Linked DNA regions of Homo sapiens. The protein of the gene in region 4 interacts with the protein of the main gene of each other region in a biochemical or structural test. Each region holds a gene or a part of one and is shown on either strand. Other genes may lie near its edges. The genes, in order: MBP, BCAR1, ARHGAP17, ABL1, HERC1, MAPT and CCND2.

Region 1 (3,500 bases), on a different chromosome or scaffold from region 4:
GCGCTTCCCGACTGTATCTGCCACGGATTGCACCGTGCGCTCCGTGCGTTCTCCAGAGAGCTCACTTCTCTTGAGATTAGGCTCCCATGTAACGCTTAGCCTAAAAACACAGGCTTTGCAACCTATGGAGAGTGCTTGCCATGGGCTGGGAGCGGAGGGGGCAGCAGAGAGAGCACAGGGCATTTTTAGGGCATTTTTCGGGCAGCGAAACCGCTCTGTCGAGGCTGCCATGGTGACTGAAGACCACGCACTTGTCCAAACCCACAGCGTGCACAGCACCGAGAGAGCCCTAAGGCAGTGTTGCTAATAAGGGAAACTGTTCGGGGTATGTGGAAACTAATTTCTGCACAGTTTTTCTGTAAACCGAAAAGTGCCATGCAAAACGAAGACGATTAAAAACAAGAACAAAACCACAGGCTTCTAATTCCAAGATCTCAGTGCAGCAGACATTTTATGCTCGTATTCGATAAGTGCACTTAGGAGCTGCAGACCTGGGGACATCCCCTTGGAAGCTCTGAATGTCAGAGGGCCCGCTACTCCTAGCCCCGGAAAGGGCTCACGGTGAAGCAAAGTCCGCCGCCTCCCTCAGTGTCCCAAGATGGGCCCATTCCCCAGCTACGGAGCCTCTGGGAGGTGTTTTCCATCCTCTGAAACACTTCCTGAGTGCTCTGGGAGATCTGCATCATCTAGAATATTTTCAATCTCAGGTCTATACTTCTTCACCAACTAGGACAGAAGTGGGGAGGCTGGGCACCCGGGTGCTTCTGGCAGCTGATGGATGCTAGCCACCCTCAGCAGGCAGGAGCCCGTTAGGAAATGGACGGCGGCACAGGGCTCCCAGTGCAGCCCACGGTTCTCTGTGTCTTTCCAGGTGACGCCTCGCACACCACCCCCGTCGCAGGGAAAGGTAAGACCTTGGAATGTTTTGATTGATCATCACTTTTCTGATAGACCTTCTCTAAAATCCCATAATGTACCAAAGAGAGAGTTAGGCTCCGAGCTACCAGAATCCATCCCAAAACGTGTTGCCAGGCAGCTCCCAAGTAGAACAGGTCGGCAGATCCATGCACCCCTCCTGTCCCTCCCGCACCTGCACAGCCGCTGTGGCCCTGAGCCTGCGGCCCCCCTCGGAGCTCCGGGTGGAACCTGTTTTTACCACCTCAGCTCCACTGTGCTTTGACTGTGTTTCCTGTTGATTGAAAGGACTTTCCCTTCACTGACCACCATGTCATTATTTCTCTGTCTTCCTCATGCAGGGGAGAGGACTGTCCCTGAGCAGATTTAGCTGGGTAGGTGACGAACGCACTTCCATCGGCTTCCTCTTCCGTCCCAGTCCTCACAGCCCCGCAACTTTTGTGTTCTGCTCTGTTTCGGTTGCTTCCTGGCCTCCTTTTCTCTCCTCTCGAGACCTCTCTGCCCACAGCTGGGATCGGGCCGCCTTGTCTTCCACTGGGGAAATGAAACGTGGTCTTCCCTTCCGGAAGGTCTGGTCTCTTGCTTCTGTGCCGGGGACCCAGCCCTGCAAGGCCAGATCCTCTTCTCCCAGAGGGTTCCCAGGCGACGTGACTGGTCTCCCTCCCAGGGAGGGAGCAACACCACGTCCGAGAAAATGTTTAACTTCCTCCAACACAACCAGTGCGAGAAGCCCCAGGAACCCGCATGTGGAAGTGGGACTGGCTGGCCCGTCTCAGTGACCCCAGATGCTGACACTGGGAAAATGATTCTGCTGATGAACAGAAAAAGAGGCTAAATAGAGTTGCTCGATTTATAATAACCTCATTAATCCAAAGATTTTTGTTTTGTATGTGTTTAAATAATAATTAAAACATAGATATCAAGCCATCCAGAAAATCTTCCTTAGGAATTTTAGGCTGGTTAATACTGAAAGCAAACTTTCAAGGAAGGTTTAAAATGGCCAATTTGAACTTTCTAGTGAAAAAATTTGGTGTCTGAGCCAAATTAAAATGCCAATCATTATATTCTAACCAAACTTACAGACTTTAGTTACTAGCAAATACCAGATATGATTCTTACTGTATAAAAGTTATAATTTTAGAATAAAATGGAGGAATAACCACCAACGTATTGTAGATAGGTTGTGTCTGTCTCCGAAACTGCAATGCTCTCATACGCTAGAACAGAGCCTACCTACACTTTCTGCTCAATTAATAAGCATCATATAAATGAATGAATACATTTTAAAAGAAAAACAACAAGGAGAAAGAACAGGAAGAAAGAACAGGGAAAGAAAACAGAAGGTGGGGAAGAGGAAGGAAGAGAGGGAGGAAGGGGCAGGGTACTTGAGAGACCATGAGGATCCCAGATCAGTCCCACACATGATTACACTGAATTATGAACTAAGATATTTACCGAAACGTTTTCCATTAATGCATATTTGACTTGCTTTTTCTGACCTAATGAATTTGCAAAACGATGACAATCATGTAGCAAATGTACATGGACTAGTACTCACAATTAATTTTTTATTTTCTATGCCAGCAGGAGACAAAGATGATAGAAGAATGAAATTCATTTTTGACCCAGAAATCTTATTTTAGCTACTGCTTTATCTGCTCTTAATTTTCTAGGAGTGGACTTTGGGGCCGTCGTGCCGGATCCTCCCTGAATGTGGAGCGATGGGGGGTTGCACACAGGCCGTTCTGCCCCAGCAGCTAACAAGAAAGACCCTTGCATTCCTCCCTGCATCTCTCCCTTTTGGGTCCTACTAATGTCTGTTGAATTTCTCTTTTTTCCAAAGCAAAATCCTTCTCTGCATTTTGTCTGCTTGTCTGTTTCCCAGAGCCGCAGGACTCTCTCCTTGTCTGGAGTTCCAGAGAGCCCCCACTTTCTCTTTCTAAGCTGTGTTGTGTGTTTCCTGGTACATTCTAGGTTCCCCAAAGATAAACATGACTAAGGATTGGAAAGGAGGAAAGGCCGCGCAGATTGTTAATCTGAAAGTCAATCCCCGGATTTAGCTCTCAAAAATGCTTTATTTTTGGAGAAAAGCAATAGAGTAAGACAGAAGGACTTAACGCTTGCAGGGAAGTGGCTTTCTGCCATGTAGAGCCAGGCTGGCAACCTGCCCTCTGCCATCAGGGAGTGAGCATGAACCTGGAAACCTCTAGGACGCAAGAGCGAGGCTGGCTGTCCCCTCGTGTGCAGTGCTTAGACCTTCTTGCCACACATCCCGTCCCTCACCTCACTGGATAGCCCCCGAATCAACTGTTCACACGAAAGCAGCTGCCTGGTTCTGAGTGGCCATGCTCACTCCCAAGCACAGGCTGAATGAAAAGAAAACTGTGCAAGTAGCTTGTATGGTGGGAAGCCCCCAGCAGAGGCTGAGGGTGCAGCCAGGTGCTCTGGAAGCCTTGAGGCCTCTGGTGTCATCTTCCTCACCTCTAAATAAGAGATGGGCTAGGTTGGTCAAGGTCCTCCCTGTCCTAAAACACTTTAATGAAATGGAAGAAAGGCTGCAGGCTGATAGAGGAGGGACAGTCTGG
Region 2 (3,500 bases), on a different chromosome or scaffold from region 4:
CATTTCTGCAGATCTGTCTCCCCACACAGAACAGCAGAGTCACCGCTGCTGGTCACCAGAGATACCAGCCCGAGGGACTCAACGAAGGGCTCGATGACATGGCCACCCTAGCACATGGGGCCAATGTGGGGTGAGGGAGGTCAAAGTGAGAGGAGGGTGCAGGGCCTTGCCAGGGACCAGGCCCCAGCTGAGAACAAATCTCCCCCTAAGCACAGGAGCCCAGCGTGGCAGAAGAGGAGCCGGGGCTGGGCAGGCGGCACCCACCTGTAGGTGGACGTAGTCATAGTCCTCCATCCAGCCCCCCTCGCTGTTCTCGTACTGCCCATCTGGCGAGTCCTGGGAGGTGAACTTAGGGGGTGAGGGCAGGGGTCGTGACTGGATGCTGCTGGTCTTGTCAGTGGGGTTGGGGTGCAGGGTGCCACCCCCCTCAGGCCCCGGGGCAGTGGCCTTGGTCCGTCTGAAGAGCAGTGAGGCATTGCCGTGCAGGAAGGAGGCCAGCTGCTTGGCGTCCTCGGGCACAGCCCGCGAGCAGGCCACCAGCCGGTCCAGGTCCTCAAGGGTGGCTCCAGAGCCTCCCCGGCCAGCGTCGAGGGCCTGACCATGTGCCACCAGCGTCTGGTGCACGTCCTCCATCTTCTGCAGCTGCCGGCTAAGCTTGGCATGCAGGGCACGGTCAGATGTGTGGGCAGCATTGCCCACCGCGCTGCGGGCAAACTCCAACAGCTCGTGGACGGCACTCTGGACAGCGGCCACAGCAGCCTGCAGGTCCTGCACCAGCGGCTCCTGTGGCTCAGAGGGGCTACGCCAGCTCCCAGTCGCACCGGCGCTGCCTGCCAGGTCCAGAAGGTGGGCAACGGTGGCGCTCACACCCTGCTGCAGCCGTGCCAGGGCCTCCACAGCAACTTCCAGCTCCAGGGGTTCCCGGCCCGGCCCTGCCACCTCCAAGGAGGACGCAGACTGGCTGCTGCGTGTGCTGCCGGTGCTGGAGGCCGACAGGCGCTTGCCCTCTGCCGGGGCTTCACGTTCAGCTGGGGGAGGCACCGCATACACACCACTGTCGACCACGCCACCATCAGCCACCTCAGGAGGAAGCACCCGTTCACGGGGCACATCGTACAGGGTGCCCGGGCCAGGCCGCCGCAAGCCAGGGGGCACGTCGTAGAGGTCAGGAGCCGGGGGCGGCACGTCATACACGTCCTCGGCCGGCGGGGAGTCTGGAGGGGGCGCAGCCAGTACCAGTGGGGTGCGGGCCGGGTCAAAGGGCTTGGCCTTGGCGAAGGCGGGGGGCACATCGTAGGTCTCCTCACGCAGCAGTGGGCCATCGGGCACATCCTTGCTCACCGATGGAGGAACGTCGTAGACCTGGGGGACAAGCGGTGGTCAAGACTGTCCATCTGTCCATCTGCCCACCCCAGGGACTGGGGGCAGCACCCAGCCACACACACACACACACGTACACACATACAGACACACACACAGAGGCACGCGCACACACACAGGCACACATACAAATGCAGAGGCACGCACACAGGCACACACACGCGCACACACACTCGCAGCCCTAGCACACACATCCTTCACAATTCCTATCCATGACAGCTCTGGGACGAGCCGGCTCTGGAGCCAGGTGACCACCCCTGTGCCTGAAGGTGGGAGAGCTTCCTCCCAAAGAATTGCATGTGTTAATTCACATAATTGTGTCACTGCAGACACTCACTGAAAGGTTAGCTGTGATACTGCCACTGCCACCACCATCATATCATGATTTCATCACCATCACCGCCGCTGCCACCTCATCACCACCATCACTGTTACCACCCAGCACCACCACCACGTGTGAACTTTCTACTCTGCAGCAGGTGTGCGACTGAGCTCTGTGTGTATTATCAGGGGACCAAATTCTGGTTTGCCCAGGACAGTGCTGGTTTGTCCCTGATGCCCCCACATAATTACTAGTCCCCCCTTCACTCTTGGAAGTATCCCAGGTGAGATGACACATCCCGTGGTCACCTTGCGGATACCCTCTCAGGAGCTCATGGAGAAGGCCTCGCAACAGGCGGTTCTGCCGACAAAGAACCTGAGGCTCAGAAGACAGCTTGATTTCCTCATCTGTCAACCATCCAGAACCAGGGTCTGGAGCCAGTCTCTTCCTGCCCGCCACCCCCAGCCCTGCAGACACTGGTCAGCACCCCTGTGCACACACCCAGACACCCCACAGCCTCAGCCTGGCCCTGGCATTGCCCTGGCATTTGCTCACTGCGTGGTGGTTGGACGGTGGCAGGCCCTTCTCCACACTGGGGGGCACGTCATACACCTCCAGCAACGGGTCTCGGCCATTGGGACCCTTGACAGCCATGGGGGGTGTGTCATACACCTGGGGCAGAAACAGTGCAGGGTTAACGGCGCCAGGGCCACTTGGGGGAATAGGAAAGGTGGGAACCCCGCAGCACCGTCCCCAGGCCTGGCCGGGGCTGAGAAGATGCAGCTCTCGGCCCAGGGCCAAGCAGAGGCACAGACTTGCCGCCCTGCCCTCCCACCGCTGCGCACCCCACACCTACCTCCTGGCCATACTGGCTGGGAAGCAGCCCCCGAACCGGGGGCACATCATAGATGTCCTGTGGCCCCGGGGCCAGCAGGTGTCGCGGGATGTCGTACTCGTCCTGCTCCGGCTGGGCGGCCTCGTATACATAGCCCTGCCCCACGCGGGTGGGCACCACCACCTGGGGGCAGAGAGCCGACTTCACTGCTGCCCTCAAACCAGCCCTTAGGGAGGCTCCACTCACACCTGGGAGCCACGTCCTTTTAGGAGGTGGGCAGGGCACACCAGGTGGAAGGGACGGGGCTCCCCAAGGATGCCAGTTCTCACCCCCTCTGCACCATCTGACCTTCCTCTAGCAGAACGCAGTGCCAGGTACGGCAAGAACTCTGGGTTTTATTCAGAGCTGCCTCGTCCTGGGCCAGGACACCAACGTCTCTACAGCCTGCTGACCCAGAAGGCTCCACAGAGGAGCATGGGTATGAGCTGATGACACCGGTGGGGTGAGGGGCTGAGGCCCTGGCTCTGGAGGGCACTACCCACAGGCAAGGAACCCCCCGTTACTGGGGCGCCTAGCCCCACAGGACAAGAGGCCACGTCGGAGGCCTGGGAGTCTGCTGCCCACACCACCTAGCTGTAGCCTCCTCAGAAGGGTTGGCCCAGCAGGGGACTGCATCCGGCCCAGGACCAGATAGAGCCTAGCACCCCCTGCCCCACAGCACAGCATGGGGAGACTCTGGAGGACAGGGCCAGAGGGGCAGGTTGGGTGTGTGCTGGGGGGCGCAGCAGCTGGGACCAAGGCCCCCTCCCTGCCGCGCCTGCCCCGGGGGAGCTGCCTGCAGCAGGTAAGATCCCCAGCGACCTGAAAGGATGAGGCCTAGTGGGGGAAGTGGGTCCAGGGCCAGCCCTCCCCTCCCCAGGTGCTCTTACCATGACCCAGAGCCCAGGGAAGCCAAGGCCCGCA
Region 3 (3,500 bases), on a different chromosome or scaffold from region 4:
GAATGTGCAAGGTTTCATCACTGTATCTGTTGAGGAACATATCTATGAACAAGAATGCTAACTTGTTTATATTAAAGTACATAAATACATCAAAGAATGGCATTAAGATTTCATTAACAGCACCTAAGATCTGCTAGAATAGATAAAACTGGTTACATTCAGATTATCTGTTTGTAGCTCTGTCTCCACATTCAAGTCCCCAGGGATCAATTATATTTTTAACCCCAGCCCCTATCATTTGACAGGTTCTCAAGAGACATTTGTTGAACTAAATTGGTAACTGAGCAATGAAACTGATAACTAAACGTTAATTCCATGACAAACAAATGACACATACAGAGAAAACTCATATAAAGAAATACAAATGTAAGAACACATTCATTTTGAACTTAGTGGAAAAAATTTAAATAGATAACAAATTTTTTAAGGACAATATCTAATGCAACTAAGGTGATGGTGAAATGTGATATTCATCATGTCATGCATAATGACACACATTATTGCGCAACATCACTTTCTGCACTACAAACTAAATGACGGCATTATCATCTTAGGAGACAACCTGGCAATACTGTCATGATATAAACATTAATTTCCTATAAATCTAGTGATTCTAACCTCTAGAGAATTCATCATGAAAAAGTAATTTAGAGGTGAGCAGCTATAATCATTAAAATGGTGACCGACCATGTCAAACAGAAGGTTGGGGAATTGTAGATACAATCCAGCTCAAGCCAGCTCAAGGCAGCAAAGCCAACTGGAAGACAAATTTGACTCCAAGTGAAAAATAATGAGCACCTAATTAAGGTAACAGGAAGGATGGCCTCTGGGAAGCAAAGATGAAGTCAACAGATAATCAAGGTCAGTTCCAGACCAGCCTGGCCAACATGGTGAAACTCTGTCTCTACTAAAAATTAAAAAAAAAAAAAAATTAGCCGGACATGGTGGTGTGCGCCTGTAGTCCCAGCTACTCAGGAGGCTGAGACAGGAGAATCGCTTGAACCCGGGAGACAGAGGTTGCAGTGAGCCGAGATCATGCCACTGCACTCCAGACTGAGTGACAGAGAGGGACTCCGTCTCAAAAAAAAAAAAAAAAAGAAAAAGATAATCAAAGAGGCAGAATTTCCAGTCTCCTCACCTGACTGAGATGATGGAGGAAAAAGAATGGGACTGACAGGTGACTAGGGAGGGTGTGAGGGCATTTAATGCCCTAGGGCAGGGGTCACATGCTTCTTATGAAGTGCCAGAGGATAAATACCATAGGCGTTGCAGGCCATATGGGTCACTGTTGCAACTATTCAACCCTGCCACTGTAGTGAGTGGCTGTGTTCCAGTAAACTTTTTCACAAAGCAAGCGGTGGGCTGGATTTACCCTGCAGGCCAAAGTCTCGTGACTCACAGACTAGAAGATAGAGGGAAATGAAGCCAATTTGAGGAAGAAGTTCATGGGTTCAATTTTATCAGGCCATGTCAGCAGAGATTTTTCAAGAGAGAGATGATAGCATCATTCTAGGGATAAAGAGACCCCAGGGCTGGAGGCATAAAACTGTCACCATGAGGTGATAGTTATGGGGCTGAGATCACCCAGGGGAACGGTCTGAGAAGAAAGGAGATCGAGGACATTTCTCTGTCGCAATATAACAGTGAATACCCAATGTTACTTCAGATCACTATGGCCCTGGAAAGGAATGAACATTACAATCTAACCTCTTTTAACTCCTACTTTTTAAAAAGAGGGCTCCTATTTTTGAAGTGGGGCTTTCAGTCCCTTTTCCAAGATAAATAAGTTTAAAGTTTCAAATTTACAGATGAAAATTTCCTAATGGCTAGAAAATAAGGCAATGCTAAAATAAAGTGCTTATCAACTTCTTTAGATTTTTATTATGAAATATTTTATGTGCAAAGAACATATAGTGTGTATGTAAAGCATAATGAATAACAATAAAGCAAATGCACCCATCCATATCTCAAGAAAGTAGTTCATTACGAATGCCACTGACAAATTACTTATTTAGAGACAGGGTCTCACTCCATCACCCAGGCTGGAGCACGGTGGCAGGATCACAGTTCACTGCAGCCTCGACCTCCCAGGCTCAAGCGATCCTCCCACCTGAGCCTCCCAAGTAGCTGGGGACTACATGCACATGCTACCATGCCTGGCTAAACTTTTTGCGTGTGTAGAGACAGGATCTTGCTATGTTGCTCAGGCTGGTCTCAAACTCCTGGTCTCAAGTGATCCTCCCACCTCAGCCTCCCAAAATGCTGAGATTACAAGCATGGGCCACTGCACCCGGCTCACTGACAACTTTTCATACCACAAGCATTAGTCTCTAAACTACAAATGAAAGCAGGCAGCCCACAGCCAGATAATGCTTTCAGATGTTTTCTTTGGCCAACAGTGGGTTTTTTTCTTTTTAGTTGCCAACATTTAAATATCAAGAAACTTCACATGAAAATCAGCATTCTGGAGTATCATCAAAAATGGAAGATGTAGCTTCACTACTCCCACGTTCACCATGGCAACAAGTGGCTAGAACTGAAGAGCAGCTCTCCCCTTTGAATGAACATGTATTCACCAGTTCACTGCAGTCCCCACATTCCCTACTGTCCTATACCCGCCTCCCATTTCACTTATTTATTTTACCCAACCTGGCACTTCGGTTTGTGACCCCTGCTTATGTGATTGTGGTTTCCAACCTTTGGGAATATGGGAAATATTATTTACAGTAAAAAAATTTAACAGACTCTCAATAGGTATATAACTAAAAGTAAGACAAGTCCACAATCCCTATCACCATTTTGTAATCCAAAAAGTTCTAAAAAACAAATCTTTTTTTGTAACTTATTTGGCAATAAAAGTTGACCTGAACTGATATTAAACTATGCATAATCTTCATGCATATCCATTCAGTGGGAATATATGTATATATATTTTGCTATACTAATGTTTGATTATGGGATTTTGTCCCAGACCCCACTGGAAGTATTACATAACAACAATATATGCATATTATTACTTTTAGAAAAATCTGAAAAATTCTGAATTCTAAAACTTATCTGGCCCAATGATTCCAGATAAGGGACTGTGGGCCTATTACACTTTTAATCCCTACCTTTAAGAAAATACAAACACAGCGAACAGATGAGAGTTTAACATTTTTACATGGATTTGTACTTCACTAGTTACTACAGCATCTACCTACACTTGAGAAACTGAAATAGAATGATAAAGGTGAAACATCCTGTGGTCTGACAAAAATGCACGGTGCACGTACTGACTGCAGCGCCCTAGGCCATAATCAAACTTGGAAGGTTTTGCCTCGTCCACTCTGCTACAAAGGCAATTCCATAATAGCGTAACATGCCGCTTACACATATAAAAATGATGCTAAATGAACATATCCTTTTATGGTTCAAATTTACAGATGAAAATTTTCTACTGGTTCATCATTTTTATGGTTTTAGAGTTCATTTCTTCCCCCCAGTAAAGAATGGATTTT
Region 4 (3,500 bases):
ATTATAGCAATACCTCAGTCAATGTTAACTCCTCCCTTCTCTTTATGGACTCTTAAGGATTATTTATATGAAGACCACAAAATCATATAGGCCACCTCCCTTACAACACCACACTTTGGGTTTGGTAAGCTGTGGGTTTGATCCCGGTTTTCACTGAAAACTGCATGCGTGTATGCACGTATGTCCACACACCTCTCCATGAATGTGTTCATCCGCAGGAAGAAGCCCACGTGCCAGGCGTCTGTGGGGGAGGGGATAGTAAAGTGGTCTTTCGCTCTAAGAAAGGTTATCTATTATTTGAATTTTTCTCGTTGGGGATGATTTCTATCATTATAAAATATTTTTTTTAAAGGAAGAATCTTATTGTAAAAAATGTGTCCAAAACCCAACAGATATTCCTCCTATTTTAAGTAACTTGCTAACAACAAAACTCTAGCAAGACAATAAGAGAATCATACCAGTCCCAGGAACTTGTAATATCACAGAACGGATCCTCAATAAAGGGTCTTCATAAGGCTAATGGAATGACTCCCACCTGAAAGATTCTTTAAACATCTTCTTGGTTGAGCTTTCTTGCAATAATTTATCAATCCGACAGCAGGACCTCTGGTTCCCCTGCCCTGGGCCCATCAGCGCCCCCTGCCAAGGGTCCCCTACCTTGCCATCAGAAGCAGTGTTGATCCTGTAATGGTACACCCTCCCTTCGTATCTCAGCGAGATGGACCTCTGGCCAGGACTGCTCTCACTCTCACGCACCAAGAAGCTGCCATTGATCCCGCTGCTCAGCAGATACTCAGCGGCATTGCGGGACACAGGCCCATGGTACCAGGAGTGTTTCTCCAGACTGTTGACTGGCGTGATGTAGTTGCTTGGGACCCAGCCTTGGCCATTTTTGGTTTGGGCTTCACACCATTCCCCATTGTGATTATAGCCTAAGACCCGGAGCTTTTCACCTGAGAAGAAAGGAACCAAATCAGACATATCAGCTTTGGAAACCAGCTTCGTTCTTTTTCATTGATTCTTGTGTAACTACTAAAAATCTCCAAATTCCTAAATACCAATTTCATTTTAACAAGTCCACATAAAGATATGCATTTATAAGTGTATGAGAATTCACGTTTACATTTGAAGCTTCCTGTTTGTACTGAACAGATAGGTAAGTGTATAGCCTCAGTTTTTATAAATCAATTATGTTTATTCAAGTGCTCTGTTCCTAATATAAGACATTTTAGGGAAATAATGCTTTTTCTTAGGGGAAAAATTGCGTTCAGTATTTTGTCCAGCTGTCCTTTTCAGTATAAAAAATAGGGCAAGTTCTGTTTTTGCCCAGGGCTATTGTACAAGAACTCCTCTAAGGAGAGTCGACTCCCTTAGAAACATGCAGTTGTTGTTTTGGATATCCCTGCAGTCCAGATTTCAAAGCTGCTCCTTTAACGAGCAAAGGGTGGTAGGTCAAACCGCAATTCCCAGATTTCTATCTCCTGCAACCACCACTAGCTGCCCACAACCCTTTTACCTTTAGTTATGCTTAGAGTGTTATCTCCACTGGCCACAAAATCATACAGTGCAACGAAAAGGTTGGGGTCATTTTCACTGGGTCCAGCGAGAAGGTTTTCCTTGGAGTTCCAACGAGCGGCTTCACTCAGACCCTGAGGCTCAAAGTCAGATGCTACTGGCCGCTGAAGGGCTTCTGGAAGAGAAAGGGGGGAACAGAAAAAAGAAAAAGGAAGAGAAAATTGGGAGAAAAAATTAGTTTTATTCTCAGAAGCAAAAATATTTGTGTTTCCAACATTACACATTCCTATTTCATTTCTTAACATCTGTACATACTATTATCATTAAGGTGGTTTTTAAAAAACTCTTCCTTTACTAAATCTTGTGGAAATTAAGTATTTTCACTCCAAGGTGGTAATTATTGTTCCCCAATAGTTTGAGCTTCTAAAATTCATGGATTCAATATGACTTTAGTCAAATTAAAACAGTCTATCCACATATGCATTTGCCTTTGCTTAAAATATGCAATGAAAATTTCTTGCTTTAGCCGGGCATGGTGGCTCACGCCCGTAATCCCAGCACTTTGGGAGGCCAAGGTGGGTGGATCACCTGAGTTCAGGAGTTTGAGACCAACTTGACCAACATGGTGAAACCCTGTCTCCATTAGACATACAAAAATTAGCCGGGCATGGTGACGCACACCTGTAGTCCCAGCTACTCAGGAGGCTGAGGCAGGAGAATCGCTTGAACCCAGGAGGTGGAGGTCTCAGTGAGCAGAGATTGCGCCACTGCACTCCAGCCTGGGTAACGAGAAACTCCGTGTCAAAAAAAAAAGCCGGGGGTGGATCATGAGGTCAGGAGTTCAAGACCAACCTGACCAACACAGTGAAATCCTGTCTTTACTACAAATACAAAAATCAGCCGGGCATGGTGGCAGGTGCCTGTAGTCCCAGCTACTTGGGAGGCTGAGGCAGGAGAATTGCTTGAACCTGGGAGGCGGAGGTTGCAGTGAGCCAAGATCGTGCCACTGTACTCCAGCCTGGGTGACAGAGTGAGACTCCATCTCAAAAAAAAAAAAAAAAAAAAAAAGAAAAGTCAAATCGTACAGAAGGGCTTAAAATGAAAGACAAATACTTTCTATCCCAGTCCTCTCCGCTCCCAGAGGCAGAGCTGTTTTTTTGGTGATCACCCCCACCTCTCTAAGTACCAGCTAGATCACTGGAGTCCTATTCTCCGTAACAGACGCACACCTTCACTGCCTGTTCTTCCAACTAGGACAGCGTCTCTGAGGACTTACTTCACAAGACAAGGCTATTAACACACCCCACCCGTCCTTCCAGCTTTCTTGCCCCCACGACCACCCTCAAATATGTTCTTCTGTAAATTTTTTTTTTTAACCTTGTGGCAATTATTATTACAGAATAGAAAAAACTGTTACTAAACTTCCATGTTTTGTCTGAAACAGATTCTAAAAGTTGGAAATCAATCAACAGCTCTTAAATTAGAAAATGTGTGAATATTATTCATTACAGGGTCAAATAGGTTATTTGTTCCTGAAGTTTCTTCTTGCCTTTTTTTTTTGAACAGGGCTCAAACGCTCCAGAATTTCTTTGTGATAAAGACAACGTGTAGACGAGTTCTTGCAAACCAGCAAATCAAATAACCTCAAGTAGATCTTACAGTTGAAGAACATTGTGGAGTGAAATCCAAAATACTCATTTAAGGAACTACAATTTAAAAATCACTAACTGGGCCAGGCACAGTAGCTCATGCCTGTAACCCTAGAACATTGGGAGGCTGAGGCAGGCAGATTGCCTGAGCCTGAGCTCAGGAGTTCAAAACCAACCTGGGCAACACGGTGAAACCCCGTCACTACTAAAATAGAAAAAACTAGCCGGGCATGGTGGCGGGCGCCTGTAGTTCCAGCTACTAGTCCCAGCTACTCAGGAGGCTGAGGTAGGAGAATCGCTTGAGTCTGGGAGGCGGAGGTTGCAGTGAGCTGAGAT
Region 5 (3,500 bases), on a different chromosome or scaffold from region 4:
CCATTACATTTCTTCCAGCTTCTGCCAGCTGTCCATGCCTACCAGCACCCCATAAGTAGACATCACATTTACCTCCCAGGTGCCAGTCCTAGAAAACCACAATCATCTCAAAATTAGAGTCATCCATTCACTCAAACAGCCATGTACTACGTACCAAGTGTGTGCCAGCCTGTATGGGAGACACCAGGGCACAAACACACAAGCATTTAGAATCAAAACATTGACTGAGAACCATCATACAGTTATCTTCATCTTTACTGACCTCAGGTCTGGAAGTTGCCCAAGACATAATTTGTTCATCCATGCCGTTAATCCATTTACTGTTATCCTGAAAAACAGGGGGTACATAATGATCAATTCTGCTTAGGCAAGATGCACCTGCTCTTAACCACAAAGTCCTCTTCTAATCATTAAGTCTTATTTCCAAAAAAGAATATGGTAATATTATGATAAATTAAGAGCAGTTTTATAATTATGTCAAACTTGATTTTATGCACTGTCAGTATTTCCCTTTATTATAAACACTTTCACTATCACTATCACTATGGCATTGGTGATTCAAAGCTAGCCATGTGTTTTCTGAACACCCACAGGTACAAGGTCATGTGGAGGACCCCACACCCCTGTAAACTCTTTGTGTAGCTGTGGGCAAATTACTTCATCTTTCTGGGCTTCAGCTTCCTCATCTACAAAATTACAGAGTTGGGCCAAATGGGCTTAGAAGGACATTTTCTGATTAAAATATTGTATACTTTTGTGCCACGTGACATTTCAGTCAACAACAAACTGCATGTGTGAAGATGGTCTCTTAAGATTATAAAACCTTATTTTTATTATATCTTCTATGTTTACATACACAAATACTTATCACTGTTACAAATGCCTAGAGCATTGAATACAGTCATATTCTGTACAGGTTTGTAGCCTAGGAGTAATCAGACTATACCGTATAGTCTTGTTGCAAGTAGGCTGTATCATCTAGGTTTGTGTAAGTACTATACACTCTATGATATTCCCAGCGTCAAGATTGCCTAACAATGCATTTCTCAGAACATATCCCCATCATTAAGTGATGCATAGCTACAGTTACATAATTTTACTTAATTTATATTTGTCTGTTTCATATTGTATCAATGTTTATCCAAATGTTTGTATACATAAATCTTAAGTATACAAAGAGGTTGTTAGATCATGTGCTGTCCTGTAGTCTAAACAGGTATTTTATCTATGTCACAGTTTCTAGAGTAGACACTCTCAAATACAAACAGAATGAAATGACAATTAGAATGCTCTTCTATATTTTATTTGATGCTAATTAAAGACATGATTGAAATGCCAAATAAATTAGAATCTATATGTGGCATATAACCCACAAGATGACCAGGAAAAGATGCTAAGATATATACAACTAAAGCACTAACAAAGTACCTATGGACAAAAGAAAATGAGAAAATATGGGACTATGTCATTGAGAGGTGGCAGGTTTACAAGAGTTCAACAGTGCTTACATTATCAATTCCTGTCACTATGGAGGCCTGCCATCAGATTGAAAGTGACTATCTGAAAGAAAAATATTTTCCATTTCTCTTAAGGGTATCCTTCTAGCCATGCATACCAGCAAAGACTTATTAGGGGTCTGCTACATGCCCAATACCCATGATAAAATCTCAGCTGCAAATAATAGCAGCTCACAGTACATTTACCATTAGAAATACAAGTTCATCCTCTGGAACAGGTTCTAGATCTGGAACGGTAAAAGATTCTGGAAACTGGGCTCCATTGGTCAGGGCTTCGGCAGCTTTTATAGTGGTTGAGAAACATTCTAACCAGGCCCATTCATTTGGATTCCAGGATGCAGGGTCAGGGAGACAGTTCTGGTGGTGTGGTGGCACTGGAGGGTTACACAACAGCTGATCCAGATGAAGTCCCACAGCAAGGGAAGCCAAGCATTGCATATAGGGGCTATGAACAAGTTGGTCACCACAAACCACATGAGGCTAAAACAAAATACAAGGATATAATATGTCAAAGAGTTTGTGCCAAATATTCTAAATTAACCTACCGTAGTCTGAAAGTCTGGAATCATATTTTTCAAGTTTACTGTTTAAGCTTTTTGCTAGGAAATAATTTTAGATTTAGAGTGAGTTGTACAGATAGTACCGAGGATTTCTGTATACCCTTCGCCCAACTTTATCCAATGTTAACATCTTATACAACCCTGGCACATTTATCAAAACTAACAAACTAACATTGGTACAATACTAACTAAACCACAGAACTTTATTTGGTTTTCCTCAGTTTTCCCATTAATACTCCTTTTCTGCTCCAGGATCCAATCTAAGCTATCACACTGCATATAGTACATTTTCATCATGGTTTTTCTTGATTGGAAAAAAAAGCAGGTAACTATTTAACCACAGAGATCTGCTCTTCTCACTTTCCTCCTTTATAAGAGAATCCTGGTAGCCATCAAAGGAAAAGCAAAAAGCTGGAAGACAGGCTACTTTAGGATCACTGTCTGGACAAGTTCAAACGCTGCAATTCCTCATTCCAGTATTTAATGACCCTACTCAATTCAACATAGCTCTTCCACTAAATTTTCCACAAAGATTTATCTAATAAGTGGAGACGATATTCAGTCTGATACCCGCATCCATCCCTATCCCTCAACTTTGGAATGGCCAAGCCATATAAAAATAGATATATGTGTGGGTCAGAAAAGGGAAGATATTCTGCTGCATAGGTATTTTAAGAAGCTTTGGAGTGAATAAATAATCTGAAAAGCAGTAATACAAACTTGGTGTTTGTTTCTTTATTTTACTCTGGTGAAAATAAAGCAAGAATAGGCTTAGGGTTGCTGAACAACTCTTTTAGGCATGACTTACCTTCATTTGATTCTGCCCAAATAGCCCCACTTATTATCCTCAGACCTCATGCTTTTAAGGGATAAGTTCAAGGCTATAATCACATTCCAAAGCACCAGGTATCTGTGTATCTCTAGGAGTGAGTGTAATGAGTTACCTTTTCATAGGCATACTGCTCCTGAAGCATCATGGGGAGCCGCTCCAAAAATGCTCTCATGCAGGGAGCCATGTTCAATCCCAGAACACCCTGCTGTTTCAATGCTGTCCTACAGGTTGCCAAAACATGATTGGCAGCTGCCCATTCTGCTGTACAATTCACGACCAAAACATCCTGGTTGAAAATAAATCATGCCACATAATAAATTTGTTTAAATAAAAAATAATGCTATCACCATTTAATCTGCGAAATTCCTTCTAGTAACTGGGACATCTTTGCTTTTTGGATATTTTATATCCAAAAAGGCTATGCTTTTAATGCCTATGGAACTTCAAAATATCCTAAATTTTGTCTAAGTAAAAAATAATGAGAAATAATAAAATTTGTGAACTACCTCTGATTAGCTGGTACTTTTTAAGGAAAAAATGTCAATAATTAACTATTTCTTCAGAACCTGCAGAATAAGGCATCTACTATAT
Region 6 (2,640 bases), on a different chromosome or scaffold from region 4:
CCACACGAGTCCCAGTGTGGGGGTGAGAGACACCTCGTGAGGGTGGGTTAGAAACCTCTTTACAAGCATTTCAAGATACATGCGTCCTTTTTTTTTTTTTTTTTTCTTTTCACTATCATAGTCACTCTGGTGAATCCAAGCATAAACAGACAAATCCAACTACAACTCAACAGGGTGCAGATGGGGAGGGCAGGGCAACATCTATGTATATGTTCAGCTGCTCCAGCAGAACAGACAGCATGGCTTCCAGCTGGGACTGGGGGAAAAGAACCATTTCCAAGGGGGTGTGTTCCCCTTTGTCGGGTGTGGAGGGCTGATACTATGCATGTGGAGCTGAGCAGCGGGCTGGGCTGTCTGGGAGGTTGGCAGCTACAAGCTAGGGTGCAAGTGGGGGACAGCGGGACTGTGGGCCTGCCCTGGGTGCCTTGCCCTTCCATCCTGGTGCCACCACTGACAACCAAGACACCCAGCCTGCTGCTGTGGGCTCAGCACAGGAAGGGGCCAGGCCTTCTCAGGGGAAAGGGCTCTCTCCATGTCAACAAGGCAGAAACACCTAGGGTCACAGCTGAGCAGTGCCCTGGCTCACATCTGTGACGGGAGGAGGAGACAGGGAACCGAATCAGATCATGAGATTCGTGGTGAGGGTCCCAGTTGGATGAGTGGAACTGAGAGTGAGAGGCTGGGGTCCCACTCTTGTGCCTGGACTTTGCCTTCCCTTAATTTCACCCTCAGTATGGAGTAGGTACCTCCTGCAACCAACCAGGGTCATTACTGAGAAGGGGTGGTGAGGCTGGGAATTCGGGACATTGTGACGTGTGATGAGGGGTATAGGCAGTGATTGGGCTCTCACGGCAGACAACAGCACAGCGGCGCAGACGGGGTGACTGCAGTGGCCGTGGGAAGGACAGGGGGCTCGGGACCTGCCTCCCAGACCCCCACACACTCCAGAGATGCCAGTGGCCCAGGCTTGGAAACGGGTGGACGTCTCCCAAGAGGCACAAGTCCTTACAAAGAGAACTGGTTAGCCCTAAAGTCCCAGGTCTGCAAAGTGGCCAAAATCATGGCAGCAGTTCCAACCTTCAGAACTCAATAAAACAGGGTTTCTGTGGAGCAGAGGGAAGCCCCTCAACTCAGGCCCCCTACCCTGCAGGGAGGGAGGAAGAGGCCAGCGCTCTCAAGACATCAAGGTCAGTCTTTTCTAAGGAGGTCATCCACGAAGTGCCACCCTCCTGCCAGCTTGCCTTCTCTTTTTACCCGCTGTCCCTTCTCCCACAGGCTGCCCTGCAGAGGGTGGCACACTGACCCACAGCAGGCCCCCACCCCCGGCCACCAAGGACAGGCGGCCGCTCAGACGCTGCAGGTGGCATAGGCCTTGGCTCTCCCAGCGGCAAGGAGGGGGATGTCTACTCTCCAGCACGTGGCTTCCTCTCCCACTCCCACTTCTTGTGCTTCCTCTCCCCTCTGCCCAGCCCCTGCCTCGGCCTCCCCCGTGGCCTCCCGCCCCACCCCAACCCCCGTCACACTCACACAAGGTTGACATCGTCTGCCTGTGGCTCCACGAACACACCAAGTTTCAAATCCTTTGTTGCTGCCACTGCCTCTGTGACACCCCCACAACAGGGCCAGAGGTGGTTGGCACCCCCAGTCCCTTGAAATCCCCCAGAAGCAGCTTTCAGAGCCTCTCCTTCTCCCTCTTCTACATGGAGGGGGAAGAAAAAAGAATCAAAAGGAATTGCCTGAGGAAATGTTGGATGTGGCCATGTTTTTGAATGTTTTTTTTTAAATATTTTATTACTAGCCCACCCATCAATTTGGAAAGATGAAATTTGCTCTTACTCCCATCACTGATTTTGAAGTCCCGAGCCAAAGCCGAGTGACAAAAGCAGGTTAAGTGATTAACCAATTAACCGAACTGCGAGGAGCAGCTGGGGGCAGAGGGCGGGGGCCGGGTCATTATTCTTTTTTTTTCCACACTCTCTCATTCTCTCCTCTCCACAATTATTGACCGCCCCAGGGGCCTGATCACAAACCCTGCTTGGCCAGGGAGGCAGACACCTCGTCAGCTAGCGTGGCGAGCTGGGGCGAGTCTACCATGTCGATGCTGCCGGTGGAGGAGACATTGCTGAGATGCCGTGGAGACGTGTCCCCAGACACCACTGGCGACTTGTACACGATCTCCGCCCCGTGGTCTGTCTTGGCTTTGGCGTTCTCGCGGAAGGTCAGCTTGTGGGTTTCAATCTGCAAGAAGAGGAAGGGAGGGAGGGTGAGATGAAGTGCCAGAGAAAGACCAGCCCTGCCAACTGCCCTGCCAGGCCTGGCCCAGAGTGCCAGGGACTGTTTTTTGTTTGTTTTTGAGACAGGGTCTTGCTCTATCGCCCAGGCTAGAGTGCGGTGGCACAATCTCACCTCACTGCAGCCTTGACCTCCCAGGCTCAGGTGATTCTCCCACCTCAGCCTCCCGAGTAGCTGGGATTACAGGTGCATGCCACCACACCTGGCTAATTTTTTGTATTTTTAATAGAAACGGGGTTTTGCTATGTTGCCCAGGCTGGTCTTGAACTCCTGGACGCAAGCAATCTGCCCGCCTCAGCCTCTCAGAGTGCTGCCATTACAGGCGTGAGCCACTGCGCCTGGCCAGGA
Region 7 (3,500 bases), on a different chromosome or scaffold from region 4:
TGAGCCAAGCACAGCCCTCCCCTCCCATCATGAACGCAGAGCAAACCTGGCCATCTGCCTGTCTCCTTGGCTTTTTCTCCATTGCCCTCTCACCATCTCCACCTCTTGAGGGACGTATATAATGGTGCTGCGCCCACGCCTGCTGTCCACCCGCCCCTCCTACGCCTTCTCTGTCGCCATGAACAGTGTGACAAAGCCAGCCTCCCTGCCTCTTGCTCTGCTGTAGGTCTCTTCCACATGGGTCACAGGAGAGTGTTTCTCTGCCCAATAACCTCGTTAGCTCCCCCCTGTGACATTCATAACACAAGCGGGGCAGCCGGCCCATGGCCCTGGGCCCACAAAGGCCCGGGTGGGAGCATCTGCCAGGGAAGAGGCAGGCAAGTATCCCCGGCCCTCCCTTCCCTCTGCCATAGGCCTCAGACCGGGAAGCACACCTCACACATGCCCATCTCTGCTGTCCCACTGCTAGCAAAACCAACTCTTATTATTGGCATACGAATGAACTTCTGGAAGCCAGCAGGCATAGGGGGAACAGGTGCACCGGTTGCACAGGGAGACTCTACCTCCCTTTTTGTTTTACTAAGAAGATTTTCAGGGGAGTCCTCTTGGGGACACTGTCCAATCCCACAGAATTGGGGAGCACTATGTGCATGAACTTGACTGCCTCTCAGCAGCTCAGAGTGGCACCAAAGGAGCAGTGTGTTCCCACAGCCAGAGGAGAGACGCCGCTGGAGACGAGGACGGCGGCCGTGCTGCCCTCTGTTGCCCGCTACACAGAAGACGAGCATCTTCCTCGGGATCCCTGAGCATGCCCCACCTCTCCTCCAGGTTAGTCAAATACTGAGGCAACATCAGCCCTCCAGCTAGGTCCAGACGTGGGACTGTGGGCAAGTCACTTCCTCTTTCCAAGGGCTTGGTTTCCCATTTGTCTAATAACGGGTTGGGTGAGATAAGTGTTTTTCTAACTTCTAGCTGCAACTCATTAATGGGTCATGAAATGCATTTGTGGGTCGTGACCAGCACTTTCTGTTGTTGTTCTCCTTTAACCAAATAGAGTAGGATAGAAAGTATCAGGCTCACCGTATGTCGTTAAGAGTAAATATTGTTCGGAGAAACTTTTGTATCAGTTTGATATACTTGTACAAGTATCCTGAGTTGTGTTATAAAATGTGTTTCTTCCTACATGGCTTAGGTCAAGAGTTTAAAGATAGTAAGCAGGATAACCTCCCAGGTGCCTTACAGGTCTACTTTGCTCTTACTTGAGGATCTGGAATGGGAATGACTCCCAAGGAGAAGAACAATGAGGAGACAATAGAATGGATCACGGTGTCTACCAGCCGGCAAATTCACAAAGCAGCCCTCTCCACAGAGCGGCGCTACTTCCCCGTGGCACCAGGGCTGCCCCAGGACCACTCTCAAGGACATCCCCCTCTCTACTGGTAGGGGATACTGAACAGAGAGAAAAACAAAAAAATCAAACATCATTTCATCTGTGCACTAGCTTCCTAGCTGTAATTAGCCAACCCCCACCCTCAACTGTGGAAAGCTCCACCTACCCAATGCAGCCATTCCTGGAAACCATCAGCTTTGTCGCTATGACAGGATGGAGAAATGGTCACAATATCCACTCAGAAGAAGGAAGCGGAAAACCAAATTGCATGCATGCATGCGACGATGAAGATTACAACCATGGGTAAATACATACATATATGCCTATGGATGAACTGGAAGGATGCACGGAAAATAAAAGCTGTTCTGTTAGGTGGGAGAAACACAGATGAGTTTGTAAAATTTGTACGTAATATTATTTTAACAAATAAAAACCAGGTACAAATTTCTCAGCAGTCTGTTAAGTCTCTTGATCAAAAATGCCAACAAGCAATATGCTGGTGCAGAAGGCACGCTCAGGGGTGAGGGTGTGCCCTCGCCATCGTTAATTGCCCACCTGGAGAGGTGAGATGCTGGTGACTTCCTGAGATCCTTCCTCCTGCAGCAGAGAGAGAGGCAATGAACCGATCAGCGATCCATTCTGATCGACTCATGACAATGTGCTCCTCCCTGTTCCAGGCAGCATGGAGGACTCCCCCCAAAACGTACAATATTCAGACTTCTTAAGGCTGGGCATCAATGCATTAGATAGTAGAGGATGGTGTGCTATAATGGCTAGGTCTGTACTACTATATGGATAACTTCTGAAGAAACTTCTCAAAGAAAGGGGGCTCTTGAAGGCTGGGCGCAGTGGCTCACAGTGTAATCCTAGCACTTTGGGAGGCCGAGGTGGGCAGATGACCTGAGGTCCGAAGTTCGAGACCAGTCTGGCCAACACGGTGAAACCCTGTCTGTACTAAAAATACAAAAATTAGCCAGGCATGGTGGCACGCGCCTGTAATCCCAGCTATTCTGGAGGCTTGGGCAAGAGAATCACTTGAACCCGGGAGTTGGAGGTTGCAGTGAGCAGAGATTGTGCCATGCACTCCAGCCTGGGTGACAGAGCAAGACTGTCTCAAAAAAAAAAAAGAAAAAGAAAAGAAAAAAAAAAAGAAAGGAGGCTCTTGAGTGAAGAGGAGCATTTGAGACACTTCTCAGAAGACTCTTCAGGGAGATGGGAAGGATTTGGAGAGTAGACTCAAAAAGCTCCAAGCTGGAACGTGGAGTGCACGGAGCTTGGGCAGCCTCCACTCCTGCCCCAGTCCCCACCAGACCCAGGAGGGCCTTTCTCCAGGTTGCTGCATCTGGAGATCTGAAGAGAGCAGGAGCAGCCACACGCCTTGCCATGGGCAACAGAGGCCGTCCCAGGGCCTAGGGCTCCAGCTCCCCTCCAACCAAAGCAGACCTCTGGAGAACACAGCTCACTGGTTCAGAGTATTAGCTCTGGAATCAGAAGGAGGTGGAATCTCCATCCCACCACCTACCAAGTGTGTGAAGATGAGCAAGTTACCTGACCTCTCTGAGTTTTCATTTTCTGATCTGCAAATAATGACAACAGCAATACCCACGTTGTAGTGCTGTTCTGAGGATTCACTTAAAATAATCCTTGTAAAAGCACAGTGCCTGGTTCAAGGTAAGCAATGAATGTCAGCCAGCATCCTCCCCAACCTGCCCCTCCTCTGCTCTCACTCCTAGTACTTCCTGCAGGACTGTGGTGGGGAGTTCCGACTGGAGATGCTCTCCAGCGTCTGGAGGGATGAGGAGAAAGGCGCCCAGCATCCCTGGATTGCAGGCAGATGCAGGGAGCAGGCCAAGCAGGCCAGGAAGAATGAGGGCTCTGTGCTTCCTGGAGAATCTGTCACTATCCAGTTGTGTATGTGTCCCAGAAATGACATCATCGAGTCCCCAAAGCCTCCTGCTGCTTTGCAGAACTGGGAGAAAGTGCAGCCCCACAGGGGAATGAAAAGAACCCCATGAACACTCAGCGAATGGAAGAGAGAAGTTGGCAACTCTAACCCAGCACATTCCACAATTCATTGAGATGCAGTTCACCCGAGCCAAGGAACGATGCC

The links.
Region 1: of the proteins of ABL1 (region 4) and MBP, one has a biochemical effect on the other in vitro, tested with the Homo sapiens proteins (one study listed by BioGRID).
Region 2: of the proteins of ABL1 (region 4) and BCAR1, one has a biochemical effect on the other in vitro, tested with the Homo sapiens proteins (one study listed by BioGRID).
Region 3: the proteins of ABL1 (region 4) and ARHGAP17 form a complex in vitro, tested with the Homo sapiens proteins (one study listed by BioGRID).
Region 5: of the proteins of ABL1 (region 4) and HERC1, one has a biochemical effect on the other in vitro, tested with the Homo sapiens proteins (one study listed by BioGRID).
Region 6: of the proteins of ABL1 (region 4) and MAPT, one has a biochemical effect on the other in vitro, tested with the Homo sapiens proteins (2 studies listed by BioGRID).
Region 7: the proteins of ABL1 (region 4) and CCND2 form a complex in vitro, tested with the Homo sapiens proteins (one study listed by BioGRID).

What each region holds. Positions count from the first base shown.
Region 1 is NC_000018.10:76,986,284-76,989,783, reverse strand, and holds part of MBP (Golli-MBP), read left to right. Parts: intron 1-871; coding exon 872-907; intron 908-1,256; coding exon 1,257-1,289; coding exon of another isoform or gene 1,290-1,694; exon of another isoform or gene 1,695-2,081; intron 2,082-3,500. UniProt on the Homo sapiens protein: The classic group of MBP isoforms (isoform 4-isoform 14) are with PLP the most abundant protein components of the myelin membrane in the CNS. They have a role in both its formation and stabilization.
Region 2 is NC_000016.10:75,234,625-75,238,124, forward strand, and holds part of BCAR1 (breast cancer anti-estrogen resistance protein 1), read right to left. Parts: exon of another isoform or gene 3,470-3,500; coding exon of another isoform or gene 3,467-3,469; intron 2,721-3,466; coding exon 2,559-2,720; intron 2,375-2,558; coding exon 2,258-2,374; coding exon of another isoform or gene 2,204-2,257; intron 1,363-2,203; coding exon 265-1,362; intron 1-264. UniProt on the Homo sapiens protein: Docking protein which plays a central coordinating role for tyrosine kinase-based signaling related to cell adhesion. Implicated in induction of cell migration and cell branching. Involved in the BCAR3-mediated inhibition of TGFB signaling.
Region 3 is NC_000016.10:25,005,370-25,008,869, forward strand, and holds part of ARHGAP17 (rho GTPase-activating protein 17), read right to left. Parts: intron 1-3,500. UniProt on the Homo sapiens protein: Rho GTPase-activating protein involved in the maintenance of tight junction by regulating the activity of CDC42, thereby playing a central role in apical polarity of epithelial cells.
Region 4 is NC_000009.12:130,852,254-130,855,753, reverse strand, and holds part of ABL1 (tyrosine-protein kinase ABL1), read right to left. Parts: intron 1,691-3,500; coding exon 1,517-1,690; intron 954-1,516; coding exon 658-953; intron 1-657. UniProt on the Homo sapiens protein: Non-receptor tyrosine-protein kinase that plays a role in many key processes linked to cell growth and survival such as cytoskeleton remodeling in response to extracellular stimuli, cell motility and adhesion, receptor endocytosis, autophagy, DNA damage response and apoptosis.
Region 5 is NC_000015.10:63,638,449-63,641,948, forward strand, and holds part of HERC1 (probable E3 ubiquitin-protein ligase HERC1), read right to left. Parts: intron 3,196-3,500; coding exon 3,022-3,195; intron 1,998-3,021; coding exon 1,704-1,997; intron 329-1,703; coding exon 263-328; intron 89-262; coding exon 1-88. UniProt on the Homo sapiens protein: Involved in membrane trafficking via some guanine nucleotide exchange factor (GEF) activity and its ability to bind clathrin. Acts as a GEF for Arf and Rab, by exchanging bound GDP for free GTP.
Region 6 is NC_000017.11:46,023,554-46,026,193, reverse strand, and holds part of MAPT (microtubule-associated protein tau), read right to left. Parts: intron 2,239-2,640; coding exon 2,023-2,238; 3' UTR 1,078-2,022; coding exon of another isoform or gene 1,006-1,077; 3' UTR 1-1,005. UniProt on the Homo sapiens protein: Promotes microtubule assembly and stability, and might be involved in the establishment and maintenance of neuronal polarity.
Region 7 is NC_000012.12:4,283,762-4,287,261, reverse strand, and holds part of CCND2 (G1/S-specific cyclin-D2), read right to left. Parts: intron 1-3,500. UniProt on the Homo sapiens protein: Regulatory component of the cyclin D2-CDK4 (DC) complex that phosphorylates and inhibits members of the retinoblastoma (RB) protein family including RB1 and regulates the cell-cycle during G(1)/S transition.